2 separate regions of the Homo sapiens genome follow, and region 1 is linked to region 2. Evidence: fine-mapped QTL for protein levels in blood plasma. A gene starts in region 2. The other region holds a variant in brackets. All regions are shown on one strand. Distances are from middle to middle.

The links. A credible set is the group of variants that fine-mapping cannot tell apart. PIP is the chance, under the fine-mapping model, that this variant and not a neighbour inherited with it causes the effect. The UK Biobank Pharma Proteomics Project read protein levels with antibody pairs (Olink). The fine-mapping took linkage between variants from a reference panel, not from the people measured, so its PIPs are less certain.
Region 1: its variant is the best candidate, but not a certain one, in a credible set for the plasma level of the HDDC2 protein (UK Biobank, PIP 0.50).

Annotation. Positions count from the first base shown.
Region 1 is chr6:125,264,366-125,279,883 of GRCh38, forward strand. TPD52L1 (TPD52 like 1) reads left to right here. Exons shown (of 7, transcript NM_003287.4): 7 at 1-42. It overlaps LOC124901395 (a long non-coding RNA gene), which reads left to right and starts at 3,750. Exons shown (of 2, transcript XR_007059736.1): 1 at 3,750-3,900; 2 at 6,151-11,555. It overlaps HDDC2 (HD domain containing 2), which reads right to left. Exons shown (of 6, transcript NM_016063.3): 5 at 12,737-12,875; 6 at 10,985-11,878. The coding sequence ends at 11,781. The variant C/T (reference allele first, on the strand shown) is at 4,791.
Region 2 is chr6:125,290,763-125,305,988 of GRCh38, forward strand. It overlaps HDDC2 (HD domain containing 2), which reads right to left and starts at 11,205. Exons shown (of 6, transcript NM_016063.3): 1 at 11,087-11,205; 2 at 9,776-9,897; 3 at 7,952-8,054; 4 at 2,079-2,147. The coding sequence starts at 11,170. RefSeq lists a silencer at 10,895-11,234 and a cis regulatory region at 12,728-12,908.

The sequences.
Region 1 (15,518 bases), 26 kb before region 2:
TGACATTTTGAAGTAAAGCACATCTGAAAAATTCTACTCAAATTAATGGAGCATGACAATCTGTGCAATCTGTACACCTAACTGAAAATCAAGGTGGTTCAGGACAACATCATCTCTGAGGCCTGGAATCTTAGCAGAGAGAATGGGGCTGTAAACTTGACCAGAGTGGACAAATGTAGACAAAGAAAGCTCACTAGCAGGGATGCTGGCATTCTCCCTTATTTGTGCTTCCAGCCTGTTGGTTGAAGTAGAGGCAGGAAACCAACCCTGCCCAGCTGGTTCTCAGGCCGTGCTGGCTCGCCCACCACAGCACACAAGTACTCAGTCTCTGTGCCCAATCTATAGCTGCCTGTTGAGTGTGAAGTGGCTAACTTGTGAAAACTCCCTGCCACCTTCTTTTTTTACCATATTCAGCACACCGCATTGTATTAGATAAAGTTATGGTACTTTAAACAAATATCTCCGTTCACCAACCAATTTCTGCACACCATAGTCTCAGCCTTATAATCTGAAAACACAATATTAGAATTGGATAGAAAAACAATCAAGAAAACTTGTGGTAATATCTTAAAGCTTCCAACACATTTTAGCTATTTATTTTATTCCATTCATCAAAATTCTGATTTCATTAGTTTGGTAAGAATCTTATGCACATCATCTCTATTCATCTAAAAGCTTTTCATTATTCACTCTGACCTAGAAGTGATATTCATAATGGCCATGGCATAAGTAGCATTTTTTATTTTTGTCATAAAATGTGTGTGAATAACTCAGATTAGATAAATCAAACACTTGTTGGTAGGTGGGCAGTCTTACCTAGTTTAGGCAGTGAGCCTACTCTTAGCTTCAGGAGCATCACTAAGAGCTGCCTGGTCCTCCCTCACCATGGGTGTGCAAGATCATCCTGATGGGACTGATTGCTGAGCTTCTCAATTACATCTAGTGAGGCTCAGTTCACAAGCAGTAGTTTAAAGTGTTTCACAAGTCCTAAAAAGTAATTGCACACAATGGACATAACCTTTTACTAACAAACCAAAATGACTTCAGGTCAACACCATGTGTGTATGAAAGGATACCTCCACAGAAAATGTACAGTTGACCCTTGAACAACAGGAGTTTGAACTGTGAGGGTCCACTTATGTGCAGATTTTCTTCTGCCTCTGGCACCCCTTGAAACAGTGATACCAACCTCTCCCCTTCTGCAGCCTACTCAACATGAAGACAATGAGGATAAAGACCTTTATCATCATCTGCTTCCACTTAATGAATAGTACATATATTATCTCTGTTGTTTTTCTTTTAACATTTTGTTTCCAGAGCTTACTTTATTGTAAGAATACCACATGTAATGCATATAACATAAAAATATGTGTTAATTGGCCATTTATGTTATCAACAAGGCTTATGGTCAACAGTAGCTGTTGGTAGTTAGGTTTAGGGGGTGTCCAAAGTTAGAATCAGATTTTTGTTTTATTTATTTATTTATTTTTTTGAGACTGAGTCTCACCCTGTTGCCCAGGTTGGAGTGCAGTGGTGCAATCTTGGCTCACTGCAACCTCTGCCTCCTGGGTTCAAGCAATTCTCTGCCTCAGCCTCCCGAGTAGCTGGGATTACAGGCACCTACCACCACGCCTGGCTAATTTTTGTATTTTTAGTAGAGACAGGATTTTACCATCTTGGCCAGGCTGGTCTTGAACTCCTGACCTTGTGATCCACCTGCCCTGGCCTCCCAAAGTGTTGGGATTACAGGCGTGAGCCACAACTCCCAACCTAGAATCGGATTTTTGACTGTGCAGGCCTAATCCCCGAGTGGCTCAGGCGTCAATTCTTTCAATTATCAAAAATTCTGATGCAATTGTGATTACAAAACAAACTAGCTTTTAAAAAAAGTAAGCCATTCTGAAATTTAACGATTTACCACATTTTAAACACAGTTGCTATGATGAACATATTTGTAAATTTACAGTGCTACTTTATCTCACAACTCACATCACATAAAGATTACAACTATTGGCTGGGCATGGTGGCTCATGCCTGTAATCCCAGAACTTTGGGAGGCCAAGGTGGGTGGATCAACTGAGGTCAGGAGTTCGAGACCAGCCTGGCCAACACGGTGAAACCCCGTCTTTACTAAAAATGCAAAAATTAGCTGTGCTTGATGGCACATCCCTGTAATCCCAGCTACTTGGGAGGCTGAGGTGGGAGAATCTCTCGAACCAGGGAGGCAGAGGCTGCAGTGAGCCGAGATCTTGCCACTGCCTTCCAGCCTGGGTGACAGAGAGATGAGACCCTGTCTCAAAAAAAGATTACAACTATTGGCAGGTCATTTTAGCAATGCAATCTGCATATCTTACTCTAAATTACACATTTTGTTAGAAATCTGTTCTTGAACCATAGCAAACAGAACAAAGTGCATGCTTTAGGATGTGTCTTCATGATATGCCATGCCGTTCACAGTGGCCAGTGTAGAGGGAACCCAGGGATCTACACGGCTCTTCTGTCACTGTTCATTGTTCCAAAATTACGTGTAAGCTTTAAAGTTGTTCAACATCAACCCCATCGTCCTCCTCTCACTTAGTATTCAATTTGAGTGGAAGTAGTGTGATAAAGGAAGATGGTGGTAAGGTTGAAAAGTGACTTAATATGAAATGTGAAACAACTTCTTCAAACCTAGCATTCAAATGTAATTTCAAACTATAACAATATTTGGCAAAATCTTATGGCTACTTTTGATAACTTCTAAGCATGGTAAAATTCTTTATGCTACATTTCTGCTTGACTTTCAGTTCACACCAGAGGGTATATTCATGTACACACACATTATATATATAATATATATAATACATATCCATCCATTATATATATATATAAATTAAAGCAAACCAAAAATGACAAAATCATGTCTTTCACAGAAATCATCCCATTTCACCTTTGAATGTGAAGACTGACAAATTGCTTAAATGAAAATGCTGAGTACAGAGATGCTTTTTTTTACAAAGCGCTTCATCAGTCATTTCCCCCAGAGCATGTATCACCACCACAAGGCTTTGAGGTGGATCAACATTTTTCAAATACAAGGGCATTGAGAATTATGTAATAGCTGGTAAAATACCAATCCATAAGGGGAAAACAGTGTAGGGAAAATGGCTGTGCTTTAGTCAGGAGTAAGCTGAGGTGGTGTTGCAAAACTGAATGGCCTTAGACATACTAACTGCTGCCCAAGGAGGCACCTGTATCCTTTTAGGAACACGATGTTGTACCTTTATCCCTGACAATTGGCAGAACATAACAGCAGTTCTGCAAGGGGTCTCATGGGAAATTAAGTTGGTTGAGAGCCTTATTGATGGCCCCCTGCAGAGACGGTGGGCATCCCTGGTCTCTGGCCTATGCTGGGCCCTAAAAGTCATAACTAGTATAGCTGGGATCCTAGTAGTGAGCTGTCGCTCTCTGTATTGTTGTGGGTTATGGATCCAGGGCTCTGCCCTATGGGCATGTATCCCTACCTGAAAGACTTCCCTTGGCCTAGGGGGTAGAGTGTAAGGTAAATCGTTGTGCTTTAGTCAGGAGTACGCCAAGGTGGCCTTCTGGTGCACCATGACTCAGAGGGTTTGGAGTGCAGGCACACAACTGTGCACATTATGTAACCCCGCCACATGAGGCACATTGTGACCACTCACATGAGCTTGTGCTTGGCTTGCAGCCACTATTGTCTGTAAAAGGTACAACTACCCAGCTGATGCTGTACATATAGCTCACATCCAGAGAAAGAACAAAGCCATGTCAAAACCGCCTGTGATTCCTTGAGTGTTTTTCCAGCTACCCACCACCTGCCCACCGTCTCCTCTCGGACCTCAGCTTGGGCTAGAATCTGACAATTGGTGCTGTAAGCAGGATCATGAGGTGAGTGAGCCTTTGGTCCCTGCTGATTCCAGGTCGGCCATGTGGCCAGAACATGGGCTGTGGTACCCAGTGGCAGCTGTACTGCTCGGATGGGCTCTGGTGGAAACCCGGGCAGTGGTAGATGGGTCATGCTTCAGTGCACAGACAAGGCACTGAAGCAGCTGGAAGCACAGAGCACCAACAAGGAGAGAGCCTTCGAGGGCTGGGTCTGTTGTCTTAGCTGGAGATCCCCACTCAGTCTGATACCGTGGAGGAAGGACCCCTGTTGTGGGCTTGCTCAGTGGCCTGTCGGAAGGTAAATCATGAACAGCCATTGGGGCCCCAAGGGTGGGCTCAGGGACACCCCTCCCCCAGCTCCAGGTAGCTCTCTTCTTTGTTAACCGTGCAACGGTTTTGTCATTTGAGCTAATGGGGCACAAATGCCCCCCAATATCCCAGGAAGCCCACCCGAGTGGTAACACAACACAATTCATATATTTCCTATACCCCAACTGAGTTGCAGGAATTAGGCAAGTAGTGCCGCCAGTGTCCAGGGGAACCCCTGCCCAACTGCATGCTTCATTTGTGGGATGAGGGAGCAGACAGTATCCCTGTTCTGCCTCTGGGATGGAAAAGCTGGCCTCCATCATGACTCCCCTCCCTCCTTCAGTGGTTGCAAGTAAGCAGGTGGCTAGTGGCAGGGCAAGGTTACCACACCCTGATTGAGTGGCTTTGGGCAGCCATATGGACTGTGTGAAATGACATTGGTGAAATAACTGAAACTGTGAGTAAATGGCAGTCATATGCTGATTTGGTGCAAGTCATCTGGGCGATGGTTATATGGCAGGCTATGTTTGACCTGAATACCCGGGGGCCAGGTGATGAATGTTTACCTCTGCACCCCCGAGCAC[C/T]TTTGGCTTCCTAGCTGCTGTCCTCACCCTGTAGGTAGGGCACCGCATACATGAAGTGACCACTGCTATAGCAGCTCTCGGGGAAGCAGAAGGCCATCGGTGGGACTGAGGGGTCCACACCATAAAGAAGAGGAAGGTGCCCTGCCCACAGGGGGCTCCCGCATGGGCAAAAAGGGGGCCCCAATGAGTGACACACTCACAGATGTGGGTAGATTTGATTTTGTCCAGGGTTGACTGAGAGAAAATCAATAAACTGCCCAATGAAGTATTCTTAACTTTGTGGAGACACTTGTCTCCAGAGAAGCAATTCTGGAAAATACCAAGGGGAAGAAGGACATTGCTGCGTGACCCATTCCCGCCCAGGTGCTCCAACTCAAGGACTACTTGCTGCAGCCAGGCTGAAATGTAGAGCCTTTTCTGTTTGATTAGGGAACTGGCCAATGTGCCCAGCTTGGGGGGACACCAGATGACCAGTGGCCACATGTAGAATTAGCAATTCACTGGTCCCCCACTAACGTACAGCGGGTGTCAGTGCTGGTAGATATTGGCACAGATTGTAGCCTTGTGTATGAGAATCAGATAAGTTTCTGGGCAAGGCTGTTACATTTATGTTTATGGAGGCTGGTTACTGAAAGTGAAACCTGTGTCTCTGTACCTCGGCATTGGCCACTTGGCTCCCTGTTTATATACTGTGTATGTCTCCCCCATACCTGAATACATCCTGGTGGTGGACATTTTACATGGCCTGGCGTTACAAACTACGGCCAGGGAATTCAGACTCCTAGTGCATCTGGTGAAGCTGGTGCTGCAAGGACATAGGCATCACAAGCCTCAGGTCCTGTCACAACCCCAACTGGTTACTTCCACCCATCAATACCATTTGCTGGGTGGGCATATGAAGATAACTGAGACAATTTAAAAGCTGGAGGAGGTGCAGATAGTGTGTGGCATCCACAGCTCCTACAATTCTCCAGTGTGGCCAGTTAGAAAGCTTGATGGAACTAGGCGGATGACGGTAAACTATCAGGAACTGAATAAAGTAACACCCGCTTTGAGTGCAGCTGTACCGTCAATCATGGATTTGATGGACTGCTTGACAATGGAACTGGGACAGTACCACTATGTGGTGGACTTGGTCAATGCATTTTTCTCCATCGACATTGCTCCAAGAGCCAGGAACAGTTTGCCTTCACGTGACAAGGGCAACAATGGACTTTTACAATGTGGCCGCAGCGCTATGTGCATAGCCCCACCATATGTCATGGTCTTGTTGTCATGGATTTAGCCACTTGGCAATGTGCAGAAGGGGTCCACCTATTCCATTATATTGATGATATGTTAACCTCTGATTCTCTTGTAGATTTAGATGTGGCGGTGCCTCTCTTGCAGCAACATTTGGCAGCATGCAGTTGGGCCATCAATGAATCCAAGGTCCAAGGGTCTGGATTATCTGCCAAATTATTGGAAGTTTCCTGTCTAGGTAAGATGATGGCCATACCAGAGGCTATTATTGACAAAATTCAGGCATAGCCCTGGCCCACCACGGTGAAGCAGCTACAAACTTTTGTGGGCTTCCTGGGATACTGGGGGGCATTTCTGCCCCATTTAGCTCAAATGACAAAACTGTTGCACGGTTAACAAAGAAGAGAGCTACCTGGAATTGGGATATGGCTGAGACCGCTTTCCTGGCAGCCAAGTGGGCTATTCAGCAGGCACAAGCCCTATGGGTAGTTGGCCAGGGGCACCTGTTTGAGCTGGATGTGCATGTGAGCACAGATGGTTTCAGTTGGGGCCTGTGGCAGCATACAGAGTGCCTGAGAACACTAGTAGGCTTTTGGTCTTAACTGTGGAAAGGAGCTGAGCTCCAACAGTCCTTGATAGAGAAACAGCTAGCAGCTGTATATGCAGCATTTCAGTCTTGTGAAAGTGTGACAGGATGGGCTACAGTCATCATGTGGATGGCTTACCCAATAGTGGGATGGATGTGTTCATGGATAATGCCCCCCTGGACTGGGATGGCACAGACATCTACTTTGGCAAAGTGGGGCACCTACTTGGAGCAGCAAAGTTTGCTGAGTACAAGACCCTTGGCAGCAGAATTGCAAGAGGTCTTGGGACCTATAGTCCTAATGCAAGAGAAGGCTATAGGGCCTGGGGCACCCCTAGACCCCAAGCCATCACCGTTTAAGGAAGGGTACCCCCCATTCCTGATGGGGCATGGTACACAGATGGGTCTAGCCAAGGATCTAATGCTGCCTGGACCGCTGTTGCAGTCCAACCTAGTACAGACACCATATGGTTTGAAACCAGGTGTGGGCAAAGTAGCCAATGGGCTGAACTTACAGCAGTATAGATGGTGATCACTAAGGAGCAGATATCTATGGTGATTTGTACCGATAGCTGGGCAGCCTACCGAGGCTTAACCTTGTGGTTAACTACTTGGAAAATACAAAATTGGCTAGTCAGCCACTGACCTATGTCATGGAGCCAAGTGATGTGGCAAGACCTCTGGGAAATGGATCATCAGAAAGATGTAATTATTTATCATGTGTCAGGCCATATGCCTTTGGCCACCTTTGGCAATGATGAGGCAGATGTCTTGGCCAAGGTCCAATGGTTAGTCGGCACCAACACAAGATGTGGCCTTCTGGCTACACCAGAAACTGGGACATGCCAGGGGCAAACTGATGTAACAGGGCAATAAGTGTTGGGGTCTGTCCCTGCCCATGCAAGGTATTTGGGAGGCTCGTCAGAAATGCCCAGTATGTGCTTGGTCATACCCTAAATGGAGGCAGCTGCCCACTTTTACACAAGTGACAACAGGGCGAGTGATCTTGACCAGGTGGTAAGTAGACTACATCGGTCCGCTGCCAAAATTGCAAGGGTATACACATGTGCTAACAGCTGTGGACATGGCCACAAGCCTGTTGTACATCTACCCTTGCAGGGTGGCCAACCAACAGCACATCCTCCGGGTCCTGCAACACTTATGTGCCCTGTATGGTTGCCCTCTGGCCATAGAGAGTGATAGAGCACCCATTTCACTGGACAACAGGTACAACAATGTGCACAACAAATGGACATAAAGTGGGGATTCCATGTGCCATACAACCCACAAGCTGTGGGTATGATTGAGCAATATAAAGGGCTCTTGAAGAATGGGTTACACTTGCATGTCACACCCGTCTTTGCAGTGCTGGAGTTCCAAGCTGGACCTGGTGGTTCAAACCTTGAATGAACAGCCATGGAAAGACCGCCCAGCCCTGGTGGAGGCTTTATTACACTGGGCCACCACCCCTATTCAGTTGCAGATACACACTAAGGATGACCTCCTCCGACCAGGTATGGGGACGAACGGTAACCTTTTGTTGCTTGCCCCAATGCCCCTGAAGGGAGGGGAACAGAAAACCTGGCTCTGGCCATGGACCCTCCAGGCTCCCCACTGCTGGTGGTTGGCCGTTGTAGCTCCCTGTGGGGAAGACCTACAGTATGACTTGCATGTCACTCCTTGGGCATTCAATACATGTCACCCTTGGTTGATTGTTCTTAGGGCAACAGCCAGGGAAGAAACGCTCCTCTGGGGGACATAAGTACTGTCTGTGTGGCCTATTATGAGCTTCCCCTTGACTTTGGCATAGATACCGGACCCATAGGAACCATGGGGAGCTGAGAAGGTGTGGTACCATCGCCCAGGGCAGAAGCTCTTGGCAGCTGCATTGTTATCCATGGATGAAAAGTTAGCCTGTATTTTGCCTGAGGGACGTCACTTACCTCTGTTAGTAGCTGTGCCTGCTCTGTCATTTTGGCCATAGGTTAACATGCTCCAACTGCATTGTAAACTGCGCCCACACCTGTGCTGAGGTGATCAATGTTTCCAACTTTCGGGTCTGCACTGCCCTTCCAGCAGCAGCTGCAGATGACTTGCCTTGGCATATACATTCAGTGTCTACAGAGAACTGGACATGGCTGGAGACTTGGGGTCCCGTGGTTGACATCTGGAATGCAACGCAGCAAGCTTTGGACAAAGGACGCTGCAAGATCCATGGTGCTCCCATCATGTGGCTGGCCCATAGCATTTATGATGGCTGGGGCTGGCTAGCGGGGGAACATGTAGTACCCCCAGCCCAGGTGTCGCAGAGCATAGAGCAACACTGGGGTAACACCACTGTGGGATAGGTACCCATCACAGCCTGTGTAAACATAACACATGTCACCATACTGAAGGTATGCTGGAACAAGCAGCCCCCAAGTTTGGGCCCCAAGGGACTTTGTGCCCCCTGGGAGTTTATGGGTCTGTGGGCACACAGGGTGGCCTTACCTACCAGTGAACTGGACGGAATGTTGGAACTGGGGGTGGCCACTGTTCTCTCCACATTGCCCAGACACTGCATAACTGGAAGGCGCTACACTCTCATTTTTTGTGAGTGCGACGAGCTCCCCAGTGGTTCTACCCCTTGACAGTGACTATCCCTGCGGCGGGTGTCACAACTGTAGAAGCACAAGTTACTGCTCTTGCAGAGCACACCACTCGGGCTCTGAATTACACCCAAGTGGCCCTCCTCCTGTTAATGGATGAGGCTGGTCAGATGAGAAAGGTGGTATTGCAAAACTGAATGGCCTTAGACATAGTAACCTGCTGCACAAGGAGGCACCTGTGCCCTTTTAGGAACACAATGTTGTACCTTTATCCCTGACAATTGGCAGAACATAACAGCAGCCCTGCAAGAGGTCTCATGGGAGATTAAGGTGGTGGAGAGCCTTACTGACAACCCCCTGCAGAGATGGTGGGCATCTCTGGGCTGTGGCCTACGCTGGGCCCTTACAGTCCTAAGTAGCATAGCTGGGATCCTGGTAATGAGCTGTTGCTCTCTGTAGTGTTGTGGGTTATGGATTCAGGGCTCCACCCTATGGGCACGTATCCCTACCTGAAAGACTCCTCTCAGCCTAGGGGATGGAGTGTAAGGGAAATGGCTGCATTTTAGTCAGGAGTAGGCTGAGGCAGCCTTCTGGCACAGCATGACTCAGTGGGTTTGGAACGCAGGCACACAACTCTACACATTATGTAACCATGCCACGTGAGGCACATTAGGTGACCATTCACATGAGCCTGTGCTTGGCTGGGATCCATTATTGTCTCTAAAAGGTTTAACTACCCTGCTGATGCTGTACATATGGCTCGCGCCTAGAGAGAGAATAACGCCATGTCAAAACTGCCTACGATTCCTCAAGTTTTTCCAGCTACCTGCCACCAGCCCACCAACTCCCTTTGGACCTCAGTTTGGGCTAGAATCTGACAAACAGTAACAAATAATTCTTTTTTCTTGAGTTCAAACCATGAATAATTATTTACTCTGCATTGTAATTATAGGGTTGTCATTCAGAAGACAAAGTCTAGGCAAATGGCAGGTATCTTCTAAGGACTAACATTTTTAAGTAATAATGCTCATTTATAGACATTGCTGGTAGGCTCAGGAGCTGTTATTTTGTTGATCTTCATTTTGTTATTTTCTTATCATCAAATGTTTTATTTATAACACTATTATATTTTTTTCTTTCTTTCTTTAAAAGATGTATTTCCTCAGGAAGGAAGGTTTAGGACTAACTGAAAACTCCCATTTCGTAGGTAGATGATGAACTGAGATAATGGTTAAGTGACTAGTTATAAAGTCTAACCCAGTAGAAGTTTCCAAAGTCTCTCTGTGAATTGTTTTGTTAGCTATTTATGAAAATTATGGTAGACAAAACATTGAAAATAAAACTGCAGGGCCACAGAACACCTTCTGGTTATAAATACTTGAACTTTATCTGGGGTTATTTTGTGTGTATGTTTTCATGCCAAGGGAAAAACTCCACAATCCTAATAGATGGAGTTGTTTTCCTACTAACCATATATCCAGTAATGGACTTTACCCTCTTTCTTCTTTTTGATACAGAGCAATTACACATACATATGTGTGTTGCTTCTGAAAAGATCATGCACCTTGCTTCCTGCAGATTGGGTATCCATGGATACCGCAAAGAGTTTCCAAAGAAACACTGCCTAGAATTTTCACCATGCCAGCCTCGAAGGCCTTCAAATGGAAAGTGACATTTGAATTAAAGGGACAAGCATCATTGCTCCACACCAAAACACTGGGCAGGTTTGCAGAAATCGTATTCTTTTTTGCACTATTCAATGTAAAGGCAGACAGGGTGGATTATTTATCCTATAAAAGGGAAAAGAGAGGAAGAAATCGGGTTGATATATTCCCTACCTGAGGCTCAATGACCCCAGTTCCTATTTATATTTCTCACCTGATGATACATGCTTTTACAATAAAGGTCTCAAGATTTATAAGTCAGACAGGGAAAAATATACAAAGGAATACAAGTTGCATTTTTATATGCCCCGGTTTATATCTCTAAATGACAAAAAGTATTGGGAAGAGGGGCAGAGCCTATTAGTAGGTTTACAAGCCTATGATTAGAAGTCTGAAGCAGTCTGCAGTGAAATTCAAAATCTGGCTCAAGAGAGTAAATCTGAATAAGGCAGCAATTTCATCTGGGGAGAGAATACATCACTAGTACATTTTCTTTTCTGGATTCTTATCACTAAATCAGCTGAAGAATCTGTTCTTAAAAGCAATCATAATGAAATTTTCTATTATTCAATGAACCTAGCCTTCGGGGATATCGGTAATTAAGTCAGAATAAGATGATTTTAAATCTCCAATAAATATTCTAATATTTTAGGTGTTTAATATTTATTTATTTAGTTCATAAACAGGCACTGCCACCTCCAGTGTTCATCCATGGCACTTTCATGACCGCTTCCTGTTCTGTGGCTTCTTTTAGTGCCCAAGTTGTATCACATTTCTTGCTGAAGTTCAGACAATTGAAAACAAACAGACTCACATCTAGGGAAATCAACAGACCAACAATGGCAAAACACAATACAATGAAATGGAAAAATAATGTTTGTTACAGGAGTGCAGCAATTTAGAGAGTGTCTCAGGAGTGTGGCTCACTGGCAGCTGCAGCTATGTTAGTGCTTCTTTCTGCCTCAAGTTCAGAAACAAGCTGGACTATCTCAGGGTGATTGAATTTTCCTGCAAAGCAAAAGAACAGGGAAAAATACATTCCCATATTGACAAGAGAGTATATTCATTTCCCCAGCTTGATCCCAGGGTTCACTGGGGGCTCTAGTCTACGATCTGACCCACACTTCATTCCAAAGCAGAAAGAGATTCCAGGTCCTGGGAAGGGGCTGAAGGGGACCACTTGGCATTTACGCTCTGTCACCCCAGGTGCAACTGAGAATAAGGATGAGACTCAGGCAAGGAATCATCAATTAGGCAGAGGTAGGGGAAACTTCACCAGGCTCCTCAGTGCCTCTACCAGGAACTATGGGAAAACTCAGGTGTGAGAGCCCAGAAAGCTGAAGACAATCTCTGCCCATTCCAAACCTGCAATTAAGTAAGGAGAATGAAGCACCTATATATGAAAAGACAAGGAGGAAGATCAGAGGGGCTAGGCTGGCTCATGATGTAAACAAGGATGCAGGTGTCTCTCTTGTAAACACCTCTACACTTCAATTGGCTGATCTGTGCTGTCATCCCTGCTCCTCAGACCTCCCCAGATTTCTGCTTTGGTAGCAACCAAGCTCTAAGCTATTGTATGTCCATGACGGCTAGCATGGGGGACTGTTCAACCCAACATCTCTTCTCTCACCGTCTTTTCTTGCCTGTGTCTGTTGTTGCTTACTGTTCATTCCACATTAAACTCTATTCCATTTATTTCCTATCCTCAGCCTCTTACCCGAATGTTTCCTTCCCTTTCTTTTTAGATGCTCCACATGAAAGGGTCAGATGAAGGTACCAACAGTGGGTTTCCCTAATATTAACATTAGTCACTACACTGAGTAAGCCAAACTAAAATGGACTCTTGTTGAAAATGGTGTTGAGTACCTGCTGTGGAATCATAGAAGTCTTGCAGTCTCCCAGGTTTGTGTTCAAGGTCTTCATATTCAGATGCTTGAAGAATCATTTCACATTGGTCTAGCTGCTTCACAAATTTGGCTTCTGCACTAGATTGGGTCTCGTACTCCTAAGTAAAGGGACAATTAAAGCAGCATGATTAGCGCTGCATAATAGGGTATCCTGGGAAAATTCTGACTCTGGTACCCGAAATCAGAGTGACAGCTACAAGTACATTCTGTATCGGCCCCATTTCTCTACTGTTTAGAAATCCATCAGAGACACTTCTGTAATTTCACAGCCTAACACCAGGACTCTATACAAGAAAGATGTGCTCTCCATTCTAAGTATTCTACCAGAAGCCATGGAAATCTTGTATGTTCATCTTAGGTACTTTCAAGATCTTTTCTTCCTGTTTAATACCGTGTCTTCATTTTAAGACCATTGTTCTTTAATCTACCTAAGTAGTTTAGATATTTTTAACATCAAGCTGATATTTCGTCTTATGCCTCTCAAACCTGTATTTCCCTCTCCATTTCATGTCAGGTTTCCTTGTCATTTCTAAGTGTATTTCTAGCTTTATCATTTACTTTTGGTTACCACTTTACCTGGGAATCTCTGTGCTTACTTTCCACATAGGGTAGATTTAATTAAGTCCCTCTGAGTTAAGACTATTGAGGATAGAGCCAAGATCTGAGGATTTTACATGCACCGGTATGTGCATGTGTTGCAGGTGGGAGGTGGTGAATGTGGTGGGGGGAGCAGTTTTTTTACCTTTCCCTTCCCACTGGTCCCTCCCTCTGCAGTGCAGACTTGGAACAAGAAGCTCCAGGAGTTCTGCTTCTTATAGAATGATGCATGCCACCCAACCACAAGTCCCAATTAATACTATATAGATTCATTCTCCTATTAAGAACAAAGTGCTCCCAACTGGTTTCCCTGCCAAGTTCTTGTTTGTAATTCTACCCCAGATGTGTTCAGATAACAAACCTGTCATGGTTTCTTGGCAGGGTGATGTGATATGAATCAATTAAAGGTTTCTTAGTTTTTATTACACGCTTATTCTTATAAAGGCAGCTACTTGGATTTGATAAAGCTGAGAACTGTATGGGGGAATCATTTAAATATGGAACCAAATACACTTTGCTTTATCTCAAAGGCACTTAAAAATAATTTCATTTTATTTGTTTATTCACATTCACAGTTATATATTTATGTTTAATAAATTCAAGTTCATGATTTCACAAAAGGAAATGGAATACTCCAAGCATAGCAGTCTAGAAATTTTTTTTTCTGTTGAAAGTGAGAAAAATATTTAAAGACCATTAGGAAATACAATACATCTTATTACAAGTTCTCATGAACTTACAGATTTCTTTTAAAAGAAATATAAATTATTGAAATTTTCCCTCAAAAATTAATGATATAGGCATTCTTCAATAAAAAGGCAAAGCACACAAAATAATACTACAGACAGAACTCTAGGGGTGAGAAGAATGCATGGCATTTGGAGAAATTATTGCAAGTAGCTTTTAATGTCAGGAAGAGTTAGGTTCAGATTTGCATTTCAGAAAGGTCACTCTAACTACAGGTGGATAATATCTGGATTGGAAGCAGAGAAATCAGATTCTAAGACTTTGTAGCACTAGCAGAGACGTTATAGGAATCTGGTCTAAGACAGTAGCAGTGAAAATGGAAAGAAGTGGTAGGATTTAAGAAATATTAAGGATAAAGAAGTGAACTAAAATATAAAAGTAAATGAGAAGGAAAAGTGAAAATGACTGCCTAGTTTCTGGTTTGAGTAACTAGGTTCATGATAAAATAGTGAGCAAAAGAGAAGAAACAGACAAAACCTGACACAGCAAAGAAACAGCAAAACCCAAACAAAAACTGGGAGACATGACATTCCCATCAAGTCCAAATATGTGCAAGTAGAGACAAACCACCTCCAGCCATAAGCCCTGCATGCCATCAGCATGGGAGTAAGAGAGGATTAATGTCTGATGGACCTGAGAATAGGAGAATCTCAAAAGGGCCAACAGGTATTCTCTAGAAATCTCACATTTTAAGAACAGTAGTTGACACTGGGAGGGATCTTGCCCACTCCAATAGTGGATGAGCACAAGGAGCTTACATCAAAGACAGCCCAGCCCTAGTGAATTTTCCAATCTGACCTGCTGGGGCTGCTTTCCAGGAGAGGGCCCACATGAGGAGAAACTGCTGGGAAGAAAATCAAAATTGAGTGGGATACAGATAACACAGATGAAGAAAAGACCCAGATAAAAATGGGGAAGGGGAACGAAACCAGGAGGACATCTCTAAAAGAAAGCCACCATATTTTTTTAATGCTACATTTAAAAAAAACACAACAACAACAACAACAAAAGCAGAAGCAGCTCTGTGAAGTTAAAAATGCAACTTGTTCTCACCACAAAATATAGTATGTGAGGTAATGCACATGTTAATTAGCTTGCTTAGCCATTCCACAACATTTATATATTTCAAAATACCATGTTGTGAGCCATAAACAATTTGTCAATTTAAAAATAAATAAATTAAAAATAACAAAGAAAAAGAGCAATTTGAACTAAATTTCCTTTCCAAGTTCAGTAAAACTAATTGCCAATCAAAATAAGCAACAGAAAAGCACAAAGGTCAGATCCTATACAGCTATCCCATAAGATAAAAAGAATAAGAAGCAAAATAACATCTCACAGGCAATTTGTGTCAAAAAGACATATCAAAAAGATAATTACATTTTAAAAAGAGAACT
Region 2 (15,226 bases):
TTATCAGGCTTCATTAATTCAACCAATGACATTTATAAGATAGTAAACTTATTACCTCTTTAGGGGTTATCAAGTGTTTTAATTCTCTGTTTTATATTTGTTCAAATTCAAAGCCGTTCTAAATAGCTTTTGTAGCATTTATCTTTGGAAGATACTACTGCAAGTAAATTTTGCAGTAAAGTTTTTCACCAGTTACTGATGGCTAAGAAAATAATTTAATAGATAACTGCCACCATGTCTACAATAATTAGGCACAAAGGTACAAACTATTGTAGAAGTTTTTCAAATTAATAATACAAGAGTGTTTCCCCCTTAGGCGACAATACATGAGGTGCTACTGTTTTTTCTTTTATGAATGAGATGCAACCTAACTCCACTCCATTATTTCCCAACATATAAGGAGTGTTCTGAAAGTTCATTTGAAAGTATATACTTTGAGACGAGGCACACTTTTCTAAAGTGTAGTAACAGGGTAGTAACAGGTACTGTCTGAGCCAGGCTCCAAGCTAGATACTACACATACTTTGCCAGGTTTAATTTTCATGATTATTCAACGAGATAGGTATTGAAGGCCTATAATCTCTCATCTTAAACCCTGGGGCCAGAGCTTTTGGCTTTCAGCATTTCCTTATTTTAGAAAAATAATATGGTACATATGGTGTACACTAAGTCATGCCTCTAGTGAGGTCTGGGACAGCACTCAGTTGCCGGATGAAGATTTCTGCATCAAAGCATACCCATTTCCACACCAAGAGAGATGGATGAGGACTCTAAATAGCCTGATGTTGTTTCAGGTAAGATTTGCTGCCTAATGAGTTCAGGTCAGGTCAAATTTCCTAAAAACTGGTCCTCTGAGGTTTCTGAATTTCATAACTGGGGATAAGGGTGTGGGAACCTGTATGATTCTCATTTTCTAGAGGAGAAAATGTGGTTAAATAGAGTCAAGTAACTCACACATGGGTGTGTAAATAGGAGTTGGATCCAAACTCAGGTCTCTCTGGCTGCAAGGCTCTGGTCTTTGCACCACACCTGAATGCCTTAAAATGGCTATTTCATCCCACCATCAACCCAAACCACAGAAAATGACAGTGCCATACAGAATCTGAGCGTTACATGGCATTTCTAGAAGGAGTTGTGCAGGGTTTCAACCCTGGGCACTTCCCCTCACACTCCTAAGACAAGGGACAACCTGACCCAGCACATGAGGGAGTAAGACATGAAACTCTGCCAGCTTTGGCAGAGGCAAAGCAGGAAGGGGCCTGAGTAAGGAAGTAGAAAGGGAAGGTAGAAGATCAAGCTTTAAGACAGGAGGATGAATATGGACTTTGAAGAAGATGTGAAAAGTGAGAGTGGGAGGAAAAGGCTATCTATGAATAAGGGGAGGCTTAGGGCTCAAGCAAGGAAGGGCCATTGTGGACTGGCTGGAAGAGAGAAACTGTAATTGGAAAGGGGAATTTTTTTTTCCCTTCACAAATGAAAGACAACAGTAGAAGAGGGAAGCAATGGGAAACAACAGCTGAACCTGCCCTTTCCTTCCAGCCTAACCTCCCTTCACTGTCAGCAGCACTGGGAAGGGAGCAGCACTGGGAAGGGAGTGAGCACTGGTAGAGCCCTGTTCCATGCCAGGCATCTCTGTGGCACTTCACCTTGACCTCATCCAACCCTAGCAACCCTCCAGGGTCTTACAGATGAGCAACAGACTCAGTGAGGGAAACGTGCCGAGGTCACAGAACCTCAAAGTGGAGAGGTGGGATTCAATCCCAGCTCTGAACTATCCCCAAGTCCATGTTCTTTTCAAGGACCAAAAATGGGTGGGTGTGGGCAAAGCAGCAAGAACTCAAGGGCTGAGTCAAGTGCCAGGAGTTGGGGTGGCGAGGGAAATGGGGAACTTGGAGAGATACAAAATTTCTATCCATCAGGAGAAATTTCTGCAGCAGCTGGGAAGTGAGAAACAGACACAAACCAGACAGTAATAAGTTAGGGACCGCTTGTTAAGATCATCTAAGTCAAGTACAACATCAGGGAGCCATATAAATTCAGATACAAATTAAAAACAGTAACGTACCATATATACTTACTTCCCAAAGTTCATAGAGCTCCTTTCTGAGGTCCTCTGGTAGGAGCTGGGTTATCTGCTTCATAGCTTCCTGAAATATTAAACCATTATCTTTAATTATATTGACATTTATCACAGTTAACAACCACTCTGCAACAGACAAATAGGTTCGGATTCTTACAAACAACTCTCACAGGGGCAGCAGAGTAAATTGGCCTATACTGGACAATATTTATAGCTTGTGAGGAAGGCAGGCAGTTGTATACCTTAAATAAATAAGTGTAATCATTCATATGGGCTTCGCTTAGCACCTCTTTTGTGGTCTACAACACAACAGACATAGAAAAGGACAATGAGGAGGTCATGAGACAATTACAGAAATATCAGAGGTGTTCAAGGATTTTACATCTGTGGATAAATCACAACATACCCACATACATTTCAATCATAAGCATATGAGAGTTCAAAACAAACCTGAGTGGGGAGAATGGGAAAGGAATACTGAATTACAAAGCTCAAAGAGATTTTTTGTATATTCATTTTCTATTGTTAACATGTTTTTATTGCAAGATGTAAAGTACAATACAAATGAGCGATTATTGCCATTAACATAAACGAAGTTACATGATAGAATTTTGTAGGCTCACAGACTCACAGGCTGAAAAGGGATATTAAACGGCAATTAGCTAAACCATCCATGTAGTATCTGAACCCTTCAATAGCATCATGGAACAGTTCTATCCTCTTTCCAAAAATGTGTGCATTGGTAGGGAGCCTAGTACCTCAAGAGGCTGCCTTAGACAGTACTGGCAGAAATTATTTTCTTATATCAAGCTGAAAATTTTCCCTGTAGTTCTTCTACCACACCTAACCCATCCCTCCTGCTTTCCTCTCTAACCCACAAACACAACGTCAAACAGGTGGACAGTGACCCCGCTGGGCTGGACTATCTGTGGCCACAGTGACTGGTCTAAGAGATAATCTTATAATTCAAACCAGGCATTCAGGGGCCATCTGCATTTGTCAAGCAGAGGCTAGGAGAGAAGCCATATTCCCCACCACAAGGAGAAGCGTTGAGAGTTAGCCAAAACCTAATGAAAAGCAGAGACAAAATAAGAGTAGAGGGTGTCCTGTACTTCTAGGCTTTCTGTACTTTCTGGTCTCAAAGATCCCAGGAGCTACCCTTATCCTCCAGTCTTCTCCTTTATTTATGAGTTACTCCAGTATCCTTCCTTTATTTCTGAATTACTCCAGTACTCTCAAAAAGCTTCAAATTCCTTCACCACCTTCATCCCATACCTTTTAATCAGCCTCAGTTCTTCTAACCACAGAGGTTAGGCTCTTTGAACGGAATATGGCTATAAAAACCATTTTTGGCAATATAAAGGTCTTACATAAAATAAAATAGTGAGTTGCAGGAAAGCAGTGAAAATAAAATTGGACATTTGTGTGTATATTTATTTATTACTGGGAGAAAAAAAATGTTACAGAATACAACCACTTCCAGAGCAAACCACATTTGCCAATGTCAACAATCCACTCTTATAAATAACATCACCATCTTGAATGGCTTGTTCAGTTACAGAGTGGTAGCATCACACTACCCTTAGTAGGAAGGAATTTAGCTTATGTTGTACATGCATTCTCCCTTGTTTCTTTTTCATAAATTTCAGCAAGAATACTTGAGAAAATACTTTATATTTTCACAAATTAACTGTGTCTTTATAGATTCCTTTTCTCTACACTATTGCAGAAACACAAGTTTGCCAATTACTTCCAGTTGAAAAGAATGAACTAAATCATATGTACATACAGGTATATGAACATCTCAACTGTAGAATGCAAACATGAAAGTCCTGCTCTGACAGGAGACTATTTTATTCTCTTTAAAATGACACACCTAGAACTGAATACAGTGATATATGTATGATCTGACCAAGGTGGAAGAAAATGGAATCATCACCTTCCTCATGCTAGATACTATATTCCTTTAAGTGCAGTGTAAGACTGAATTGGCTTTTTGGTGATCACATCCAATTACTAAGTTATTAATAGGCTTCTTTTTGTTCAAAATCACCATATTCTTTAAAAAACAAAACAGCAAATACGTTGTTGCTCTCTTCCTGAAACTGAACTATGATTTTCTGAATCTAGGCTGATTGATATTTGTTAATCACACAATCAGAATAGCATTTTTGAAACCTTGTAGAGAGTTAATATTCTTTGTTTGGCAGCACATGCCAGAATCATGCCTTTTTAATTGAACCCTCTGAAATCAACATGGCTGAGGTCCAGGGTACACAGCTGAGTATGCCAGCCTTTCCCTTCCTGGCAAGCGATGAGCCCTGACACTTCCACTTCTATACTGAGTTTCACCTTGTTGTTCAGTCATAGATTTAGAGTGACAGCTTCCCTAGCCTCTTCCTCTGTTAGCAAAATATGTCAAAAATCTGCCTAAAGTGCCGAGCTGAATGAAGCTTTCAGCAAATATTTTGTGTCAGTTTTGTGACAAGTAACTGGAAGGTATTATTCATCATTCAGACACTGATGAGGCTGAAGAGTGTAGTAGTCAACTGAAGACCAGATCCAGACTGGGTTTCAAACCCGGCTCGCCATTTATTAATACTAGCTGTGGAACCCTGAGCAAGTCATTTGACCTCTTTGTCCTTCAGGTTTCTCATCTACACAGTGGGGTTAAATATTGGTACCTACCTAAAGGGATCATAGGGATTAAACAGTTAATACACATATAAAGTGCTTATTATTGGCACATAATAAGCACTTTATAAATCTGCCACATAATAAGCACTCTATAAATGTTTGCTGTGTTTTTCATTTTCTCCTTCTTGTCATACTTACTCTATGATAAAGTTCCATTCTCTTTGTAATCTCCAAGTTCTTTAGCAACTTTAACCCTCCCAGACACAGGCATACCACGACTCTGCCCTCTGTTTCAATAAGGTTTCCCCTTTGCAAAGGAATATGACCTGCCACCATTATATTCCAGCTTCAAGTTCCACCTCACTAGATCACAGTGATCCTTATCAGACATCATTTATCAACCTGCATTATCAACCTGCATAATATCAAGTGTATGTTAATATGTTTAGGAATGAGGCCAGACTACAAGTATTGCTTTTGGCTCCTTTCTAAATTTGTTTCTTCTATGCCCTCATTCTCCCTTTCATCTTAATACCTACTTTTCTCCAAAACAATCAGCCTTCCAGGTTTATCAAGTATAGTTGGTCCTCCATATCTGTGGGTTTTGCATTAACGGATTCAACCAACCATAGATAAAAAAAAAAATTAAAAAAAAAGATACAAATAAAAAACAATACAGTGTTATCAACTATTTACATAGCATTTGCATTATATTAGGTATCATAAGTAATACAGAGATGACAAAGTATATGGAAGGGTATGTGCAGGTGATATACAAATACGACACCATTTTATCTTCAGCATCTGCAGATTTGGTTATCTATGGGGGTCCTGGAACCAATACCCCATAGATACTGAGGGACCACTGTATTTTTTCTCCCTCCTACTTTAGTTTAGAGGCTCACTGATGTAGCCAGCAAGGGCAAATGAGGTTTCCTGGTTCTCATTAGGCAAATTCCACTCAGAGCCAAGAAACCCTCATTTAATTATCTTAATGCATGGTTCAGACATCCAAATCTTGTTCATAAACACCATCTGCATAAAGAATTGTTCACCTCCCTGATTTTCTTCTCTCTTCCCAAATCCTGACCAGCAGCAGGAAGAGGCAATAGAACATCAGTGCTCTCCAAGCCTTTGGTTTCTTGTCCAAGAACTTGTGGTTCTTTAAGATGTTTCCCCATTGCCTTCTGCTTATGACATTTATTCCCCTGTGAATCAGCAGGAGTGGGCAGCAGTCAGGAGGTTTAATGAGGCTGGAAAGGTTTTTCATCAAAGCCAGGATATAGCATCCTAGAAGGCAGCAGTATCCTCTCTGATTGCTCAGGTCCCCTCTGTGCCTGTCCATGGGGTGTCACCAGCCAGGACTCAGCTCTTGTAGGGACAGTCGTAGGTCCTCCTCACTTCCAGTTGTTGGAGATGGTTCACACTGACTGGTTCTTCTCCAGAAGGTTTTGACTTGCTCCTCTGCGGAGTGAATCTCAAATTCACTGTGTGCTTCCAGAGGGAAGTCTGTCTTTTTCCTCTAGGCCCCATTTTTCCTTGCCTTCTCTTCACCTTAAGGTCTTCAATGACTCACTGGTACTTTAGAATATGATTTCTCGTCCACAATGTCCAGATTTACCCTTGAATAAAACTATCCTACAATGAGCTGTGTAATTGAGGAATTTTTTTCCCTTCCTTTCCCTCTGTGTTATACTTCATTACTCACCATCCTCTGGTTCAGCTGCTAATTCCTTTCTGCAACTAAGAATCTCGAACTAATTGGTTTCTTTTTATATTAATTCTGCCAGTCAACAGAACAGTTCTTTATTCATGGCAGTGCAGATTCATATAGAGAAACATTTCCTTAGACTCCTCCCCTTTTCCTGTCTTGGTCAGCCTGTATCTTGGACCTAAACTTTGGCAGGAAGAACACATTCCTTATACTATTCCCCTTGTGCCTACACTTTTGGGTAGGTTGGAACTCTTAAACTGGGACTCTCGTTCCTTGTGGCTCTTCTTACCTTTGAAGGGCAAAAATCCTGCTGGCTACTGAGCCCGTTAGTCTACAGGTGTACAGATCAAAATGGAGTTTCTTATGTCTTCCTTTTCTACAAAGACACAGTAACAGTCTGATGTCTCTTTCTTTTCCCCCACAAGCTCCAGTCTCCCCAGCTCTGAGAATAGACATTTAAACACACTTGCCCTGTTAAACCATCTCAATAAAGACTCCTACTACTCAGCAATTTAGGACCAATCTCTTAGGCCTCTAATAAAAGTAGCTAGCAATAACTCTTGAATTGAAAACCAACCACTCAGCATTCAAAAAAGGCTTCCTTCATTTTCCAGCTTCTGCTTCAAACATATCTTCCTCGTTTGCCCTGGGCTTTGGGTTTAGAGTCCAAACTGATGTTAATTTAATACATTATTGATGTTATTCATTTCTTTCTAATACAAATACTTGACTTTTCTTTACCTTCAACCCCTAAGTTAAAGGAGTAACTTAAAATTTACTAAATAATAATTACAATAATGATTCGATTTGTGATTTATAGAACTTCTCTCCAAAAAGCTTATTTAGCATGGAGAATTCCTACAAATTCATTTAAATTCCAGCTATTTTCATTATTCTAATGAAAGTTAGTGTGGAGGGAGAGGGGGGTTAAAAAAACTACCTATTGGCTTACTATCAGGGTGACAGGATCTGTACTCCAAACCTCAGCATCACACAATATTCCCATGTAACAAATCTACACATGTACCCTGTAACTAAAATAAAAGGTGAAATTAACAAAAATAAAATAAAATAAAAATTACCTAGCCTCGGGTATTTCTTTATAAAAGCTACAAAAGAACAGACTAACACAACAAGCAAAATCCAATCTGCTGCTTATTCCAGGAAATCCCTGCTTCTGGAAGATAAGGCTGTAAACCCCCTAAAACTGGGTCAACACTAACAGTTTATTCTTCAAAACTCATTACGACCTTCCTTCACATGTTTACCAATCTAAATCTATTATATCCTAAACTGTGCAATCCCAGCTAGTTGCCTAACTTGTCAGATCCATCTTAATATTCTCCAGCCCAGGCCCTGAATCTCTAAAAATATCTTCCCCTGACCTTCCCCTTCCTAAGACACTACTAAGACTATCAAGGCGGTATTCTCCCTAACTGTAACAGGTCTCATAAACTTAGCTTTGCTTCAGCAAGAGGTTTTTCTGGTGGTTTTTTGCACAGTCAATAGTCAACACTGACCTCTTCTCGCCTATGTTTTTCTTCTTTGGGGATGTTATCTGCTGGTGCTATGTCCCCAACGATGCATTCTGCCATATCATGAACCAGGGCTAGGCGTACACATCTGATCAGGCAAGAAATGTCGAATAATTACACAGAATTATATTTACTACAAGTTCCTTCTCTATACTCTTCCAAAGTTATATAATATATATATTTTTTCTCCACCCTCACAGAGTATTTTAATGTAGTATTTTCTAAAGTAGTTATATTCTGCCAGCCTACAACAGTTCTGATCAAAACTGTTAGTTCATATTCAATAAAATACATGTGAGTATAGGGGAAATTGTTAGCATTAATTTTTTTTCTTAAATGGTTTATCTCTGAAATCTCACTTTAAAAGGCTAATAGGCCAGGTGCGGTGGCTCACGCCTGTCATACCAGCACTTTGGGAGGCCGAGGTGGCGGATCACCTGAGGTCAGGAGTTCGAGACCAGCCTAGCAACATGGTGAAACCCCATCTCTACTAAAAATACAAAAATTAGCTGGGTGTGGTGGCACACACCTGTAATCCCAGCTACTCAGGAGGCTCAGGCAGGAGAATCATTTGAATCTGGGAGGTGGAGGTTGTAGTTGGCTGACACTGCACCACTGCACTCCAGCCTGGGCGACAGAGTGAGACTGTCTCAACAAAAAAAAACGAGATTACATTTGACAACTTTCATGTTCCTGACACATGTGAATCATTCAATAAGTGGTTATGATTATTAGCGGTTAAGGAATAGTGGTTGTGATAATTCATCATCAAAACAGGAAGTCAAGTAATGAGATAAATGCCCCATAGGGCCAGTATGTTTTAGGCTCCCCACACTACCAAGGCAGTACAAGGCCCAACAGTGTCCTCTGAGATTTCCCTGCCTCTAGTCTCTTTCTGGTCCAGTTCAAATCCCAGACTACTCCAAACTGCATCTCTATTGGACTTCATTTTCACCTTGTACCATTTGCCAAAAACCTCCTCAGTTCCACTTCATCTGCTGAGTAACAGAGGACTCCTCAGGCTTCCCAAATGAACTCTTTGCTGCAGTCAAGTTGATTAATTTCTCATTTGCAAAATACTCCTTTACTTTCCTACACTCAGGGCTTTGGTTTATCTGCCCTTCTCTCTGCATGCAGTGACTTCTCCTACCTCTCTGGCTACGTTAACCCTTTTGAGCTCAACTCAGATTGCACCTCCTCCATTAAGATCAACCAAGAACAGGTGATCTCCCCTGCTCTTACAATACTTAACATTTTCGACCATAACTTACATTTCACTTCTTACAGAAGCTATTTTGGGCCTGCGTAATTCACTTGGGATTTATTTACTCTCTTACATGCTAGTAAACTTTTGTTCTGTGCTCAAAAAGCATTTTAACACTTGTCGATTAAATGAAGGGGGAGAAGATACCTCTTTCTCAGCTATGTCTTGCACACACAACTCCAAAAGGAAGCCTCACGAATGGATACTACTATCCATAAAAGGCACTAGGAAAGAGCACACAGTGTACTAATACAATGCTAGAATTTTAGACATAACACACTCACCTTCAAGGCCCCAATATCACACTTAAGTTTCCCCTGATACCCTAGGCAGGCTCTATCACTTGCCAACAGAAACCCCAGATTGCAGTTTACAACAACTGAGGCAACATAACCCACATCCTAAATTTGTATGGTTTGCTTCAAATAATTTTTCTTGACCTATAAACTAACCTACAAGGATTTGACATGGGTCTCAGTAGTAAAAACGGGTGCACACCCATAGACCAGAATCTCTCACGAGCATCAAAGTCCAGCTCAGCTTACCGGTCTTTGTTAAGACGGTCATCTTTGATCACCATAGCCATAACTGCCATCCGGTACATGTGATCTGAAACGCTCTCCGGCCTCTGGACATTTCTGTATACCCAGCCAGTTCGTGGGACTCTCTGATAAATATGAAGAAGAAAAAGAAGTTTTAAAGAACAAATATTAACTATCTGCTATGCTCTTCAAGAGATGTCCAGGATATAACACACAGAAGCCGGGTCATAATTTCAGAACCTATTACAAAATGTTTTGCTAAACTAGCTAAAATGATAGACATCTGGAATCAAATGAACTAGAGAGCTCAGAGAATGAAAGGGGTAGAAGACAGAGAGAGATAAGTCACAAAGTCCATTCGTCAAATTATTCTGTTACTGATGTATAATTATGGAACATATGCAAGTCCTTTAAACAAAAACAAAACTGCATTTTTCCGAACAAGAGTTGCGGCTTTTTGCCTTCAAATAATCCTACACAAGCAGAAAACACTGTATTGAAGGGTCTGAACGTGAACGAGTGATAGGCTTCCAAATTCTGAGGCACAAGGGATAAGGGCACTTCTAATTGCTTGATGCTACCAGCCGTGACTCTTCCTTTTATTCACATCATAACTTCATCTTGTGAAACTGCATTTCTTCCTCAGAATTCTACATCTCTAAGGAATGTTATAAATAGTAGTCAGAGTGGCATGAAACGGATAATTTACTTTGAACTTGGGAGAGAGACGGGGAAGACGCACATGATGAAACTCGTGTGTATTACATTAAATCCCGTTTGGGGGGTGGCCGGGAGAAAAGTCTTGTTTCTGGAAGTAACTGTGAGACAGACATAAAAAGCTCCACTTAAAATCTGAGGAGCCGACAGATTCTGTTCTTCCCACCCGTGCTCAGAAGCAGCCGCGCTTTACACACACACACACACACACACGAGTTCTGGGGTCGTGAGCACACACACACACACACACACACACGAGTTCTGGGGTCGTGAGCCCCGGAAAAGCTCAGTGCAGGCAGGGCCAGGCCGGCTGCTCTCCGGGAACTGGCGCGGCTGCAGTGCGGACCTCGCGGCGCCAGGCTCTAGGCTCAGACTCCGGGCCGCCCCAGCTGGCCAGCCTGTCCCGCCGGCTGCTTCCTCCGTCCACCGTCGGCAACGCGCGGCCGCATCCGCAGGACTGGGGCCTTTCCGGAATTCGGCGTGGCGGACGCGGCGCAGGAAGGGCAAAGACCGCCGGCCGAGCGGGGAGGCCGGAAGCTCCGCCGCCCCACAGTCCCGCCCGCTCGGCCGCGGCCTCCCGGCCTGGTGCCCGCTCACCTTGAGCTGCCCTACCAGCCGCAGGAACTGCAGTAGGGACCGAGCCCCGTGGCCCGAGAAGGTCGCAGAGGAGACCGAAGCCATGCGGCCACCGACCCCGGCTGGGCGGAGCAGGCCGCGGCGAAGCTCCTCCCCGTCCTCCTCCTCCTCCCCTTCCCCTTGTCTTTCTTCCCCCTCCTCTTACTCTTCTATCTCTTTCTCCTCCCCCTCTTCTTCTTCCTTCTGCCCCTCTTCCTGCTCCCCCTCTTCCTCCTCCCCTTCCAACTCCTCCTCCTCCTCCCCCACTTCCGCTTTCTCCTCTTCCTCTTCCTCCTGCCCCTCTTCCTCTCTCCCCCTCCTCTTCCTCCTCCTCCTGTTCTTATTCCTCCTCCCCCTCCTCCTCCTGTTCTTATTCCTCCTCCCCCTCCTCCATATTCTCACGGTTTTCTCAGGACCTTCTGTCCAGCCTTCGCCTTCTTGGCCTTGGTGTCCGCTGCTTGGGCATTGCTCCGTCAGTGGCAGACACCTTGCTTGGCACATACTTGACACTCAGTACTCTTTATGAAAAATAAAGCTCTCCTTTCTAAATTTATGAACCTCGTTATTCTTCAGTTGACAGTGTAAAACCATGAAACTGGATGAGGTCACCTGGCAAGAGGGTGTGAATGAAGAAGAAAAGACACCCAAGACCTGAACCCCAACATTTAGGCTTTGTGAGATCAAGAGGGAACAGCCAGTGAGGTAGGAAGAGGATTAGTAGGTAGGATAGTTGTGTCCTGGAAGCCATGTACAAAAATATTTCAAGAAGGAAGGAATATGGTCAACCAAGTCAATGTGAGGACCAAGGTTTGACTTCCAGACTTAGTAAATTCAATATTATTGGTTACCCTGACAAAAGCAGTTTTCAGTGTAGTGGGCCAAGCAGAACCTAGTGAGATAATTCCGAAGAGAATAGGAGCAAGTATTACAGCACATTGGAGATGGGGTTGGGGTGCTGTTAACTAGTGGAGAGATTGTTTCAAAACAGGAGATATTATGTATGTTTACTGATGAAGGGGATCTAGTAGAAAGGGAAACATTGATTATGTAAGAGACAAAGAAGAGAAATATTTGAATGTCGGCCTTGAGTAAGGAAAAATATTCCCATCTGGTGTACAAGATAAAAGATGGGCTTTAGATAGGAATATGGAGAATTCATTCAAATATTGGAGGAGGACAGAGTATAGGGTGACTAATCAGTCGCACATGTGGTCATGGGAGGTTGTAGAAGTTCTCTTCTGATTGCTTCTATTTTCTCACCAAATTAGGAAGCAAAGTATAGGCTGGGATGTTATAATAACAAACAACCTCCTTATTTCCTGTATCTCAGCAGTTTAACACATCAAAGGTTTATTTCTCTCTCATGCTAAGTGTCTATTGTAGATCAGCTAGAGGATGCTGCTTGCTCTAACCTTACTCAGGGAGCTAGGAGGCTTTCTTTGCTCTCTTTTGCCAAAATTGGAAAAAAGAAAAGTGGCACTCTGGCTCTTAAAGCCTGTCTCTGGAAGTGATATATGACCTTTTGTCTACGTATCATTGGTGAAATAAGTAACACTGCCACGTCTAACTTCAAAGGGGGCCTGTGGAGTGCAATCTTGCTAGGCCTCTGGGAAGAAAGGAGGCTAGAATGTTTGTGAATAGAGGAGGAGGCATTTGAGGTTTAAGGAGTGATATAGTTTGGCTCTGTGACCCCACCCAAATATCATGTCAAACTGTAATCCTCAAAGTTGGAGGAGGGGCCTGGTGGGAGGTGATTGGATCATGGTGGCAGACTTCCCCCTTGCAGTTCTTGTGATAGTGAGTGAGTTCTCATGGGATCTGGTTAATGGTGTGTAGCACTTCCCCCCTTTGCTCTCTTTCTCTTCTGCTCTGCCAGGTGAAGACGATGCCTGCTTCCCCTTCACCTTCTACCATGATTGTGAGTTTCTGCAGCCATGCTTCCTGTACAGCCAATGAAATACCTTTTCTTTATAAATTACCTAGTCTTAAGTAGTTCTTTATAGCAATGCAAGAATGGACTAATACAAGGAGAAAGAAGGCATGAAATAATTTTTTTGAAGACTGGTTCAGCAACAAGATTAAATATGACTAAGAACCAAATAAATGCCAAGGACATTGGGGCTTGTATTAAACGTGGTTAGGATAATGACCTGGAAGCCATTTTTATGATGGTAAGTGGTGCTAAATAAAGGAAATATCAAGCCAGGTGTGGTTTGTGCCTTTATCCCAGCTACTTGGGAGGCTTAGATGGGAGGATCACTTGAGCCCAGAAGTTTGAAGCTGCAGTGAGTTATGATCACTCCAGCTTGGGAAACAGAACCTGTCTCTAAAAAATTAAAAATTAAAAAATGGAGGGATCAAGGTTTAAAAAGAAGGATCAAGAATCAGAGGCAAAGTCAGACAGTCCACTGGAGGAACACGAAAGCAAATGACCAAAAAGATCCAGGAGAATAAGGAAGATGAGGATGTTGGATTTGCTGAAGGATGTAGTAAGGGGCTTTCAAGAGATAGGTGCCATGAAGCAATGGGGCTGCAAGCTAGCTGGTGAATGTGCAGTGTAACCCTTACGGTTCCTTCTGAGCAGCCTTGTCTTCTTTTGCCAACAATGCATTGATTTCCTTTGAGCTCCTCCTGATTCATGCAGGCTTGATTTAGTTTCCATGGGTATTTCTGTCTGTATTTGCAACTTTCTTTGCAAAATACACGTGAGTTATCTTAACTTTGTGTAGTGAGCTGTAAAGAATTTCTCCAGTTTCCTAAGTGATCAGAAGTTGGAAGACGTCAAGTTGCTGAAAAATTATGAATTGAGTATAAATAGTTTTTGAGGGACACTATTTAAAGATGATATGGATTTTTGGAGGGGACATTACTATCTAAAAGTAAATTGTTACTGTGAAAACTCAAAATATAGTGCCGACTTCTTGCTTTTGTAAACTGAAGATGTTCATCAGGGTTCGTAACAAGGTTTATTCCTACTATATCATTAAAGACCAAGATGTTTGACTCTAGAAGGTGGAATAGTAGCCTCTTAAGGATATCTAATTTTTCCAGAGCTTGCAAATATTTCTATATTACATGGCAAAGGAGAATGGTAGCAAATGGAATTAACTTTGCTAATCAGCTGAACTTTAAATAGGGAGATTATCCTGGATTATCCCAATGAGTGAGATGTAATCTCAAGGGTTCTTAAAGATGGAAAAGGGAAGGAGAAGAGTGAATGCCAAAGGGATGTGATGGGAGAAAGACTCAACTGGCCATTGCTGGCTTTGAAGATAGAAGGGGCCATGAGCCAAGGAATGCAGGCAGACTCTAAAAGCTGAAAAAGACAGGAAAATTAGATTCTCCCCTAGAGCTTCCAGGAGGAAATGCAGTGTGGCCCGCCCCTCGATTTTAGCTTAATGCAGCCCATTTTGACCTCCAGAACTGTAAGATAATAAGTTTGTGCTAAGTTTATGGTAATTTGTTACAATAGTAATAGGAAACTAATACAGTGGATAATCATGTTGGATGTCCTGAATCCCTTTTTACCAAATACCCTTCTTCCCCTTTTCTGCTGAAGAAGGGAAATTGGAAAGCCTGTTTCTATTTCACAAAACCAAAGACATATTTCAATGATGTGTTGGTCAAGCATCTTCCTCTAGCATTAGGTTAGAGGAAATAGGAATCAATTTATTTCCACAGAAGGTGGTTCCATTTTAAAGCAGTGAGCAAGGAAGGAGATTTGGCACAATGTACTTGAGTCAATTGGAAGGAAAGATGTTTGAAATTAGAAGGCTCTCGTTAGAGGGACTCTTTACTTGGATCCAATATACATTTCAGGGGAACCTGTGGATACCCTGAAATTGTCTACAACTTGTGTTGCTTATGAAATTTTTTTTGTTTAGAAGATTCTTAAAGTGGTCTGTGGCCAGAACAGGGGCAAAATCTGCCACTATTGAGAAATCTGCTATGTATCTGTGATGTAGTACACAAAACTCTGGACTCAGAGCGATAATAATCAAAGGTACAGCTAATTGAGCCTCTGTTAGTGTGAAGCATTGTTACATCTCTCATCTTGTTTTATTCTCTCATTATCACTCCAAGGTATTAATGATTCCACATTCCAGATGGGGAAACTGAGGT